Linked DNA regions of Homo sapiens. The protein of the gene in region 3 purifies or fractionates together with the protein of the main gene of each other region. This does not show direct contact. Each region holds a gene or a part of one and is shown on either strand. Other genes may lie near its edges. The genes, in order: ATRNL1, MRC2 and TAFA2.

The links.
Region 1: the proteins of TAFA2 (region 3) and ATRNL1 purify together in Homo sapiens (affinity purification with mass spectrometry; one large-scale study listed by BioGRID and IntAct). This does not show direct contact.
Region 2: the proteins of TAFA2 (region 3) and MRC2 purify together in Homo sapiens (affinity purification with mass spectrometry; one large-scale study listed by BioGRID and IntAct). This does not show direct contact.

What each region holds. Positions count from the first base shown.
Region 1 is NC_000010.11:115,302,741-115,306,392, reverse strand, and holds part of ATRNL1 (attractin-like protein 1 isoform 1 precursor), read right to left. Parts: intron 1-3,652. UniProt on the Homo sapiens protein: May play a role in melanocortin signaling pathways that regulate energy homeostasis.
Region 2 is NC_000017.11:62,679,531-62,683,182, reverse strand, and holds part of MRC2 (C-type mannose receptor 2 precursor), read right to left. Parts: intron 3,384-3,652; coding exon 3,281-3,383; intron 3,014-3,280; coding exon 2,875-3,013; intron 2,766-2,874; coding exon 2,730-2,765; intron 2,384-2,729; coding exon 2,223-2,383; intron 2,122-2,222; coding exon 2,054-2,121; intron 1,347-2,053; coding exon 1,246-1,346; intron 949-1,245; coding exon 806-948; intron 1-805. UniProt on the Homo sapiens protein: May play a role as endocytotic lectin receptor displaying calcium-dependent lectin activity. Internalizes glycosylated ligands from the extracellular space for release in an endosomal compartment via clathrin-mediated endocytosis.
Region 3 is NC_000012.12:62,182,636-62,186,287, forward strand, and holds part of TAFA2 (chemokine-like protein TAFA-2 precursor), read right to left. Parts: intron 1-3,652. UniProt on the Homo sapiens protein: Has a role as neurotrophic factor involved in neuronal survival and neurobiological functions.

The DNA.
Region 1 (3,652 bases), on a different chromosome or scaffold from region 3:
AGGAATGAAAATTAGATTGGCATTGGAATTCTTATCCACAACACTGAGTGCTAAAGAGGTTCCAAGGAAAAAATTATTTGGAATACCACATTTAGCCATTTTATCATTCAAGTGAAAATGAAAAGTACACTTTTAGACATGCAAAGACTCAAAAGTTTATGTCACAATTTATTTGAAAGAAATTACTAAAGATTATTTACCAATGGTTAAAATGGTAAAATTTATGTTATGTGTGTTATACCACCAAAAAAAATTGTAAAAAAACAAAAAAGTAGAACAAATGAGAAGGAATGGGATATAAGAAAAATTTGTGACAACATAAGCTTAATTCTAAATAATTTTTAGAAAGTTGTTAAGAGTATAAGAGCTTAGACTTTCACAAACCAGTTTTTCCCTACTTTCTAGCCTCTTTTATTGTGAAATATAACACACATACAATTACATAAAGAAAAATATAAGATTAATAAATTCCTATAAACACACACTCTGGACCTGCACAAAGCCTAGAAGTGGAGCATTGCCTCTCTTGTTTCATTTCCTAATCAGCACCCCTAAACTTCCCCCAGCAACATCCTCTAGCTGACATTTTTGAGAATACACTTTTGCCTTACTCTATAGTTTTACCACCTAAATACGCATTTCTAAACAATACAGTGCCGTTTTGACTATTTTTTAACTTTATACCTAAATGTAGTCAAACAGTATGTAATCTTTCATGTCTAGCTTCTTTCATTGAACAATAATGTTTGTCGAGAGACAAGCATGACTATTGAGGCAGGAGAAGGTGCGCATTGTCTCATTCCCCACAAGTCTTCAACTCTTGTATTCAACTCTCCTGGGCAGCTGGCTCCTAGTTTTGAAATGTTTTGCTATGCACAAAGGCCATTTTATGCCTGCAACCACCACACTGCCACCCACTTGATCAGGTACAACACCCCCATTCCTTACCACAATCCCTAAAAAAGGATATCAACAGGGAGCTCAACTCATAATACATCCAACCATGTCCATCCCAGGCATACCTCTCCACTTCATGCCAAGAGCCTGAAGGAACAAATGAACACAACAGCTGCAGCTGGGATTCCAGCCTGCATTGTGTTACTGTTTTGCCTTAGCTCTTCAAGTAACAGTGGTGCCCACTATGGACCAAATACATATTTGACTGGACCACTGAGAGTGATGAAAGGCCTAGAAAGTCAGTAAGTCTCTACGTGCATTGCCTTATGCAGTGGCTACCTCTAAATGGGAAGATGACTCATCTGAGCAAGAAGGACTAGTATCAACTGGGTGACCATGTTGTCCAAGGGCCATACACTTACAGGCTTCAACATACTAGATTTACCACCAACAGGGATCTCAGAATTATGAAGTTACTGTGATAGAAGTTATTAAGAAATTATTTTAGGCAGATAGAGAAAAAAGGAGTCCTTGGAAAGTTTTCATTTCTTTTTAAAACACCTCCAAAAGTGTTTCTTGTCTAACAGAAAAGTCCCAGCTCTTAGAGCCAAGCCGGCAACCTTTAGTATGCATATGCAAGCCATTAGAAACTGGGTCCACTCAACATGGCGATTCCCACCTTTGTCCTCTTGCCCTTGCCCCACATGTATTTGGGAATATGGCCGCCCCACATATCCCCATGTGTGTAGAACATCATGGTGCCCTGCATTTGCATATTAAAAGGCTAGGGTGGGAAGGCCAGTTTTTTTCCGAGGGCTACCTGAATGAAAGCCTGGTCAAACCAATCCCCTAAGCTCTATGCAAATCAGACACCCCCTCCTCCAGCCTCTACATATACCTGCCTGGTACGCACCACACTTGGGGTTTCCTCTTTCGGCTGTGGAGCCCCCATCCCTCTGTCTCTGTAAGAGCGAACCTTCTGCCTTTTCTTTTCTTTCTTGCCTATTAAACTCTCTGCTCCTTAAAACCACTCCACGTGTGTCCGTATTGTTTAATCTAATTCAACGTGAGACAAGAGCCCTGGTGTTCCTCCACTCATGGGAGCCATATCATTACTATAATTGCTAACTAGAATGGGTTGCCTCTCAGAGGAAAAACAAGAAAGCTCAAAGGAGGGAAGGAAGAGTGGACGGGCAGAAAATAAATATTGCTGCTGGGATAGTTGTTTGTATTTTCATCAGTCAGGCTGCCAGTGGCTGCTCCTATGGAGGGACTGCAAGAAAGTCAATGATCTAATAAGAAAGTCCTGAAGATACTTATGAACGTTATAGAAACAAGCTGTGTTATGGCCTACACTCCTAGGAAAACTCCAAGTGGCTGTTTCCTGGAGAGAAAGGGTCAGAGGGAAACCAGTGGACTGATGCAAAAACCTAAAATGGACCTTTGACCTTTAAAAGTTTCAAATATGACAAATGAAGAGAGATGATGATAGTGGAGAACTTAGGGCTGTTAGGAGAAAGGAATTAGAATCGGGATAAAGATCCCCTGGAGAGAATTCCTGTATAGAGAGGGAAACTGTTGCTTTCCCTATCTCATTGAATACATTTCAACCACAACATATTCCTGAGTTTAATAGATACACCAGACTCCAAGTGGCTGTTATTTTGTCTCCTTTGACTGAACTGTAACTACAGTTTCTTTGGAACCTGGATCAAACACACCAACATGTTAATTAGATTCACTCATTTCAAATCCTGTTTACTGCAGGTTAAAGTATTGGAAGAAAAAAAAATCCAAGGAGTCTTGCTCCTTTTTTCTTTGTGAGCTTCCTGGACACTCAGATGTTGAGAAGAAGGGAACTGAAAAAGAAGCAAAAGAACTTCTGATTTTATTTGTCTGTTTGGACTTTACCAAATAACTGATATTTTGCTTTGTTCAAATCAAAGCATCCTCAACGGACATAAACTTGGATACCGGCCGGGCGCGGTGGCTCACGCTTGTAATCCCAGAACTTTGGGAGGCCGAGCTGGGTGGATCATGAGGTCAGGAGTTCGAGATCAGCCTGGCCAACAGTGAAACCCCATCTCTAAAAAAAGTACAAAAATTAGCTGGGCATGGTGGCACATGCCTGTAGTCCCAGCTACTTGGGAGGCTAAGGCAAGAGAATCACTTGAACCAGGGAGGTGGAGGTTGCAGTGAGCTGAAATTAGGCCACTGCACTCCAGCCTGGGCCACAGAGTGAGACTCCATCTCAAAAAAAAAAAAAAAAAAAAACCTGCATACCAACTTTATCTCAGGTGATTCTGCAGCTTTCTATGGTGGTAGAATGGTAACTACTGGGCCCCTGAAAAGTATATTATTCAAAAAAAAAAGGACATAAAGTCTGGATTAATTACAAGAGGGACAGATACCAATGAGTGGGATATGAATGAATGCAACCAACATTGAGAAACAGGTCATGAGAGCAGCAGGAGTAAGTAAAACTTTCTACTTTTTTGTTCCAAATCTGAACATACCAATTAATTCAGGTGAAAAGGCATATTTTTGATGAGCGTCAGTGTCAAAGAGTGGATTGCAGAAAGATAAACCATATTCTCTGCTATGAAGAAGCTAGCTAAGATTGGCACTTTTTTCTCCCAAGCAGAAAGAGTTTCACACGGTCTTAAGTTCCTACAAGGCTAACAAGTGCTCCCAGTAGCATTATGCAATTCCCTTGGCAGCTGTATTCTGACGCCATTTGTGTTTGTAAGCAAGG
Region 2 (3,652 bases), on a different chromosome or scaffold from region 3:
AAATGTTTTAAACTTAAAAGTATTTAAAAATCTTTAGCTAATGTTTTATACTCTTTTGTTCTTATACATATTTTACTATATATAATATTAGTCATATTAGTATGGAAGTAGGTTTTATTTACACACACATATACATATATAAGTTAAATGTACACACACATAGTTTGGTCATGTAAGCTCAATATTTTGTTTTACTAATAGGAGTTCATTATCAAAATCTTTGATAATCAGGCCGGCAATCAGGCCGGGCGCGGTGGCTCACATCTGTAATCCCAGCACTTTGGGAGGCCAAGGCAGGTGATCACCTGAGTTCAGGGGTTCGAGACTAGCCTGGCCAACATGGTGAAACCCCATCTCTACTAAAAATACAAAAATTAGCCAGGGGTGGTGGCAGGTGCCTGTAATCCCAGCTACTCGGGAGGCTGAGGCAAGAGAATTGGTTGAACCCAGGAAGCAGAGGTTGCAGTGAGCCGAGATCGCGCCACTGCACTCCAGCCTGGGTGACAAGAGTGAAACTCCTTCTCAAAAAAAAAAAAAAAAAATCTTTGGCAATCACTGATCTAGAACACTCACCAAATTATTTGGACAACCTTGCTTCCCGGAGGATTGGAAGGTGCTACTACAGTGAGTCATTTTCCAAGGAGTCTGGCCCTGGTACTGGAGCCAGGTGAAAGAGAAGTTGGTGGGTACAGGCAAGAGGCCATGAGTTTGGTGCTGCCAAAAGGCCAGGACTCCTGAGGCTCAGCCTTTCCCTGTTCACGTCCTCTCCCCTGACTCCCTTGGGTGCCCCATTGCCACCTCCTACCTTGTTGAGGAACTGGATCCAGTCAGAGGGGCAGCCCCCCAGGGCTGTAGTTGGCAGGTCTGGGGGCTGCGTTTCTTTGGTGACGTTGCTGCGCTTGCAGATGTAGGGCAAGGCTGTCAGGCACCTCTGGTCCCCCCAGTCCTCTGCGGAAAGGGGAGGGGAGGGCAGTCACCCCCAGGGCAGAGCAGGGCAGGGCATGGCTGGCAGCACACTCAGCCTCATGCCCTGAGAGGAGTCTGGGCAGAGGCTCAGGGCCTGTGTCCAGCTCCGAATTCAAGTCTTCTGGACCATGGAGACAGGTCCACCCCTCGCTGAGTCTAGCCTTTATTGGGTTGTGGGAACAAAGAGAATGAGAACAGACTGATGACTTCTGCCCAGGCTCGCCCAGCATTAACCCTTTGCACAGCTGACTGCGCACTCTGCCCCCACCTTGCCCTCACCTCGGCTGGCTGTCATGTACACGCACTTCTTGTCCTTGCCGACAGGCCGAGGTTTGCCTGGTGCCCAGGAGATGAAGTTTATAATGGAACCATCTGTCCATCTGCAATGGCATGGAGCAGAGGTAACTCCAGCACCGGCCCCCAGCTGGGCCTCCACCGGATGCAGCAATGAAGGCCGCAGGAATGGGGGCAGGGAAGGGCCCAGGTTCTGGGGTTTAGTGGCTGTAGGCTGAGGGGTGGAGCTACTGAGCTCAGGGCAGTCAAAGACCCAAGGACCTGGTGCCTCTAGATAAGGCCCCAGCTGTCCCTGGACACTTGCTGCTCCAGAAAAGAAGCCTGAGGACTCCAGGGCAGGAAGCCCAAGGGCAAAAAGACAAGCTCAAATTCTGAGTCCCAGGTGCTCCTGGTCCTTCCTGCCTCAAGCCCCCCAGTACATGGTAAGTAGGCACCAAATACAAAGAGGCCCCCGGATCATCATATGTTCTGCCCACTTCCCCGAGAGGGCCTTAGTCATGATGAATGACACCAGACGTAACAGGAGCTGCCATTATTTAGTAACTAATGTGCTGGATGCTGCGTAAGCACTTCGCATATGTTATTTCTAATCTTCACAAAAATCTTACCAGGCAGGCCTCATATTCCCATTTTCAGATGAGAAAACCAAGGCCCAGAAAGGTTAAGTATCTTGCTCAAGGCCACACAGCCAGCAAGGAAGGGGCAGGGCTGGATTCAAATGCAAGTCTGCCTCTGTGCTCCGTGTGTGGACAGCCAGCCCCCTTCCACATCTGCTGCCTGCCTGGGTTCCTACCTGAAGCGCCCATCGCTCTCAGAGGTGTGCAGGCCGATCCACCAGTGCTGCTCCTGGGCCCGGGAGAACTGGAGAAGCCAGGCGGGCAGGTGTGGGTAGGCAGCCCCCTGCCCTCATCCCGGGCCTGCCCTCCCCCAGCCTGCAGCCCCCTGCTCAATCCAATGCCCACCTTCTGCAAGTTGTGGCTCAGGAAGTCTAGCTCCGCCTGGCTGTGCACCGAGGTCAGCTCGGCCTGGAACCACGTGCAGATGCGCTGCGCCTGCGCCCACGTGGAGTGGTGCTCAAAGAACTTGTACTCGGCCTCCTGGAAGCGCAGCCATTCCCGTCGGCCTGCAGGAGCAGCGCGGGCGTGGGAGCGGCGGCCAGGCAGAGGCTGCACGCCAGGCCCCGGAGGCGGGCGCGGCAGGGCCGGGGCAGAGCCAGGCGGCAGCAGGCGAGCCTGCAGGCACACCGGACCCAGGCAGGCACCGTGCCAGGCCCCAGGCCCCAGGCTTGCCTCGCCTCCCACACGGAAGCAAACAGGGCTGTGGCTGCCTCCGTCCGAGCCAACCCCGTCCCCCTTCTCTCGACCGGAACTCCTCATCCCCTCCATTTCATTCAGGCCTCTCGGGACTTACCCCAGAGTTGACGCCCTCTCCCACGCGATGGGTAGCGGGATGGGCTGGGGGGTGCTCACCTTGAGGGCTGTCGTCGGGCTCCCGCACGTCCGTACCTAGGGGAACAAGGACAAAGACGTTGTGAGGAAAGGAGACCCTCCCTGGAATTCCTGGCCCCGCCACCCTTCGCTCCATCCCGCGTCCCCCAGCGCCACTCCGGCCAACCTCTGGGGATCTTGCAGATCCAGTCCAGCTGTGTGTCGCACTGCATGGCCACCCACTGCAGGGAGGCCAGGTCCAGCACCGCACAGCCTCGGATGTCGTCGTCGTCGTGCCGGCTCCGGTCGAAATTGTGGTAAGAGAACTGGAGGAGGCGGGTGGAGGGAAGAGGAACGTGAGGCGCAAGGTGCAGGCCGCCCCCATGCCCGGAACAGGTGAACAAGAGGCCTGGCCTGAGCTGCGAATTCTCACCGGGGGCCGGGTGACCCCTCTCGGACCTGCTTTCCTGAAGCCGGCTCCGACTGGGGGCCCGGCCCTCAAGAAAACCCGCCCACCTCCAGGCCCCGCCCCAAACAGGCCCCGCCCACCAAGCTCCCGGCCTCGCAGTCCCAAGTACCCCAGGCCCCCTCACCCCTACGCCGTCGCTCCAGCGCCAACTCTGACCCCCTCTGGGATCCCGACGGTTCAGGCCGATCCAGAACCAGTGCTGCTCGTGGATCTCGGGTTCTGATTCACTTCAGCACAACCCAGGAGTGGGGACGGAAGAGATGGGAAGTGAGAGGGGCAGGAACCCAAACGTGCCCCCTGTCCCTTGCAGCTGTGACCGGGGCAGCCCCCAGGGCCTGGGGCCTCTCCATCTGGGCTTCACATTGACCCATCGATACAGCGTTGAGGTCACTTCGGTAAAGTTCTCCCCACAAGACAGAGCTGGGGAGAGCTGGACCAAGCCATCCACTCAAGGGGCAGTGGCCCCTCCCCTTTGTTTGGGTTCCTTTTGGGTGGG
Region 3 (3,652 bases):
AGGCATTCTGGGACTACAGAGCCTGTTCCAAATATTTTGCATAAATTTAAACTTCTGCATCTACCATTTGTGTCACCCTCCATTTGAGGACAGACCTTGTGAGCTAGAATCAATCCACTGCATTACATACCTCACCTCAAATATATTCTATAATATTTTTCTTCACAATCCATTTCAACTCAAATATTTAACTATTTTAATTATTTCTTTTCAGACCTATACTTCACAGCTATAAATAAGAATGACTAAGAAGAAAACATACAGCACAATACATTGTTGAACCATTCCTTCAGATTAATTTCAAAACTCCAAGTAATATACTAAAATGGTAAATATCATGAGGGCAGATGTCTGCCTTTTTTGTATACTAAGATAGCCCAAACACCTAGAGAGTGCTTTCTATGGACTGAATGTTTGTGTCTTCCCAAAATTCATATACTAAAGCCTAAATCTCCAATGTGATGGTATTTGTAGGTGGGACCTTTGAGAAGTAATTATATCATGAAAGTGGAGCCCTCATGAATAGTATTATTGTCTTATAAGAAGAGACATGAGAGAGATGATACCTGTTCCCCCACCCCACAACCACCACATGAGGGTCTAGTAAGATGGTGGGTGTCTACAAGCCAGGAAGATGACCTTCACCAGACAAATCTGCTGGTGCCTTGATCTTGAACTTCCCAGCCTCCAGAATTGTGAGAAATTACTGCTTATTGTTTATCACTCAGTCTGTGGTTTTGTTTTTGTTTGTGGTGGTAGTTGTTTTGATACAGGGTCTTGCTCTGTCAGTCAGGCTGGAGTGCAGTGGCACCATCACAGCTCACTGCAGCCTCAACCTCCTGGGCTCAAGCAAACCTCCCACCTCAGCCTCCCCAGTAGCTGGGACTACAGGCACTTGCCACCATGCCCGGCTGATTTTTGTATTTTCTTGCAGAGACAGGGTTTCATCATATTGCCCAGGCTGGTCTCAAACTTTTGGGCTCAAGTGATCCACCTACTTCGGCCTCCCAAAGTGTTGGGATTACAAGCGTGAGTCACTGCACCCAGTCAATCTGTGGTATTTTTATCACAGCAGCTCAAACTGACTAAGACAGTGCCCAATAAATACTTATTGAATAAATGAACAGACTTTTCCAAGGATTATAAATTCTCAAAATTCATACATAGATTTTGAATGAATATGTTTAATTATCATATAATATATGAAGATTATTTATTTTCTAGCCTAGTTGATCGAACTAATTTTATTTCAGTGACTATGAAAGCCATCAGTAGAGCAAAGACATGTAACCCTAAAAAACCTGAGACCCATGACCTATCACAACTTGTTTTATAACAAAACAGCATCATGCAGATAAAGCAACATTACTAAATTATAAGATTAAATCTGATTCAATTTTATGTCCCAAGGTCTATAGCCTTTAGTCATCACCATAATCATCATTATCATCATCTTCATCATCTCCATCTCAATCTTACAAAGCTGAAGAACCCAAATAGCAAGCTAATGAATTTTAACCACTCAACAAATGACGGAAGGAGCAAACATATCTTCAACTAGAAAAGTATAAATTTTGACCCAATTCTGAATGTATATTGATAAGCACACCAATCATCAGTCTAAAAGGGGTTTACAATAATGCTTAAATGCATACATATCTTAGCAGGAAACAACTGTCATATAACAGATTACTTATCTATTGGAAAGTATATATGAGGTATTTAAATGCCAGAAACTATCTGCTAGATTTTCCTTGACTTCCTAACTAAAAGGGAAGCTCCTTAAGGTTAAATATGTCACGCTATATTATTGCACTTCCATGCCATGATACTTAGTGGGTCTGAACACACGGGAAAAAAAAAATTCTTTTTTTTTTGAGGCATAGTCTCACTCTGTCACCCAGGCTAGAGTGCATGGTGTGATCACAGCTCAATGCAGCTGTGACCTCCCAGGCTCAAGTGATCCTCCCCCCTCTCAGCCTCTCAAGTAGCTGGGACTACAGGCACACACACCCATGCCTGGCTAATTTTTTTTTTTTTACTTTTGTAAAGGCAGGGTTTCATCATGTTGCCCGGATGGTCTTGAACTCCTGGGCTCAAGTGATCCTCTTGCCTCAGCTTCCCAAAGTGCTGGGATTACAGGCATGAGCCACCGTGCCTGGCTGAAAAAACACTTTATTTTAATTGTCTTAAAAACTCCACTGAAGAAATATGTTGCTGAGAAACTGAGGCACAGAGAAATAAAGTGGTTTTTTCATGGCCACATGGTTATTTATTGTTAGAGCTACAAAGCATCTCCAGAGCTCTCGCCACTGCACCACACTGGTTTTATAATAGTCAATTTCAAAATTTATCTGCTAACCCAAATAGCAAGCTAATGAATTTTAACCACTCAACAAATGATGGAAGGAGCAAACATACCTTCAACTAAAAAAGTATAAATTCTGACCCAATTCTGAATGTATATTTATAAGCATGCCAATTATCAGTCTAATAGGGGTTGGCAATAATGTTTAAATACATACATATCTTAGCAGGAAAAAAACTGTCATATAACAGTCATTAGATTTAGTCCAAGAACTAAACTTTTAAAAATTAGGTTAAGTTTTTTCCTTAAAGTTTTCCAAAATGGGGCCTCTGTTTTGTGGAGGATGAGATTTCAATGCCCTCTCATTCTCCCCTTGGCCTTTGAATTGCTTCACTGAAATGTGGATCGTCTACCTCTTTTCTCTTTCTACACTGTGAAAAAGAACTAAAGTTAGAGCTATTTCACTCAATTTGACTCAACTTTCCAAAGAAAATACAAACAAAGCTGGAGAACCCAAATAGCAAGCAAGACCAGTTCACAGCTACTGACTTGTCTGATAGCCATTTCTGAGAAATTTTCTGAACACTCTAGCACCAACAAATTTGAGTATGCCATTTACCATATAACTATAACAAGGTAAAACTAAACTAAGAAAGAAATGGTAACAGTAACCAGGTTTCCTACTTTAAATAAAATAGTACTGGACAGTGCCTCTGTGAAATTAGAACTGTCTATAAGCTAGTAATGATAAAAATATAAGTATAAATGTTGTTTTTCTCAAGTAATATGAATGGCCATTTCTAAATTCTTGACTGATCTGAAAGTCACAAATTCATTCCATCAATATATAATGCCCTATTGTTTGTAAGGTCCTGGAAGGCCTGCCCTCTCAAAGAATATATTTTAATAAAGTCTCTTTGTTCTATCACTAGGTGGAAGTTTGCTATTAAAATTCCTATAACCACATAACCCTTTTAAAACCATGGCAGAGTTTTCAGATATAGACAATAATTTTGAATGATCAGTTTTTTGTACCAGAAGGAATCTGTCTCCTCATAGCCCAGGACATTCTGGTTTGAAAACTTTAATTCCAAAGCACAAATGCACCTTTACAAAAATCTTCTGTTCTAGTGCCCACTATAATTTATTTTCAAAGACTTGTTTATAAAGAGCTGCATAATCCACCCAAAGAAAGTCAAAGTGTTTTTCTTTATTATTAAACTCAACAGAAAGTTCCATGTGCAGCTACAGGAGGCCATAGGCAATTAACACTGAAAATTGAAAGGTTCAGAATGTTTGCATGACCTTTAAAGGGCAACACCGTTGCCCATTCACATGCATGCA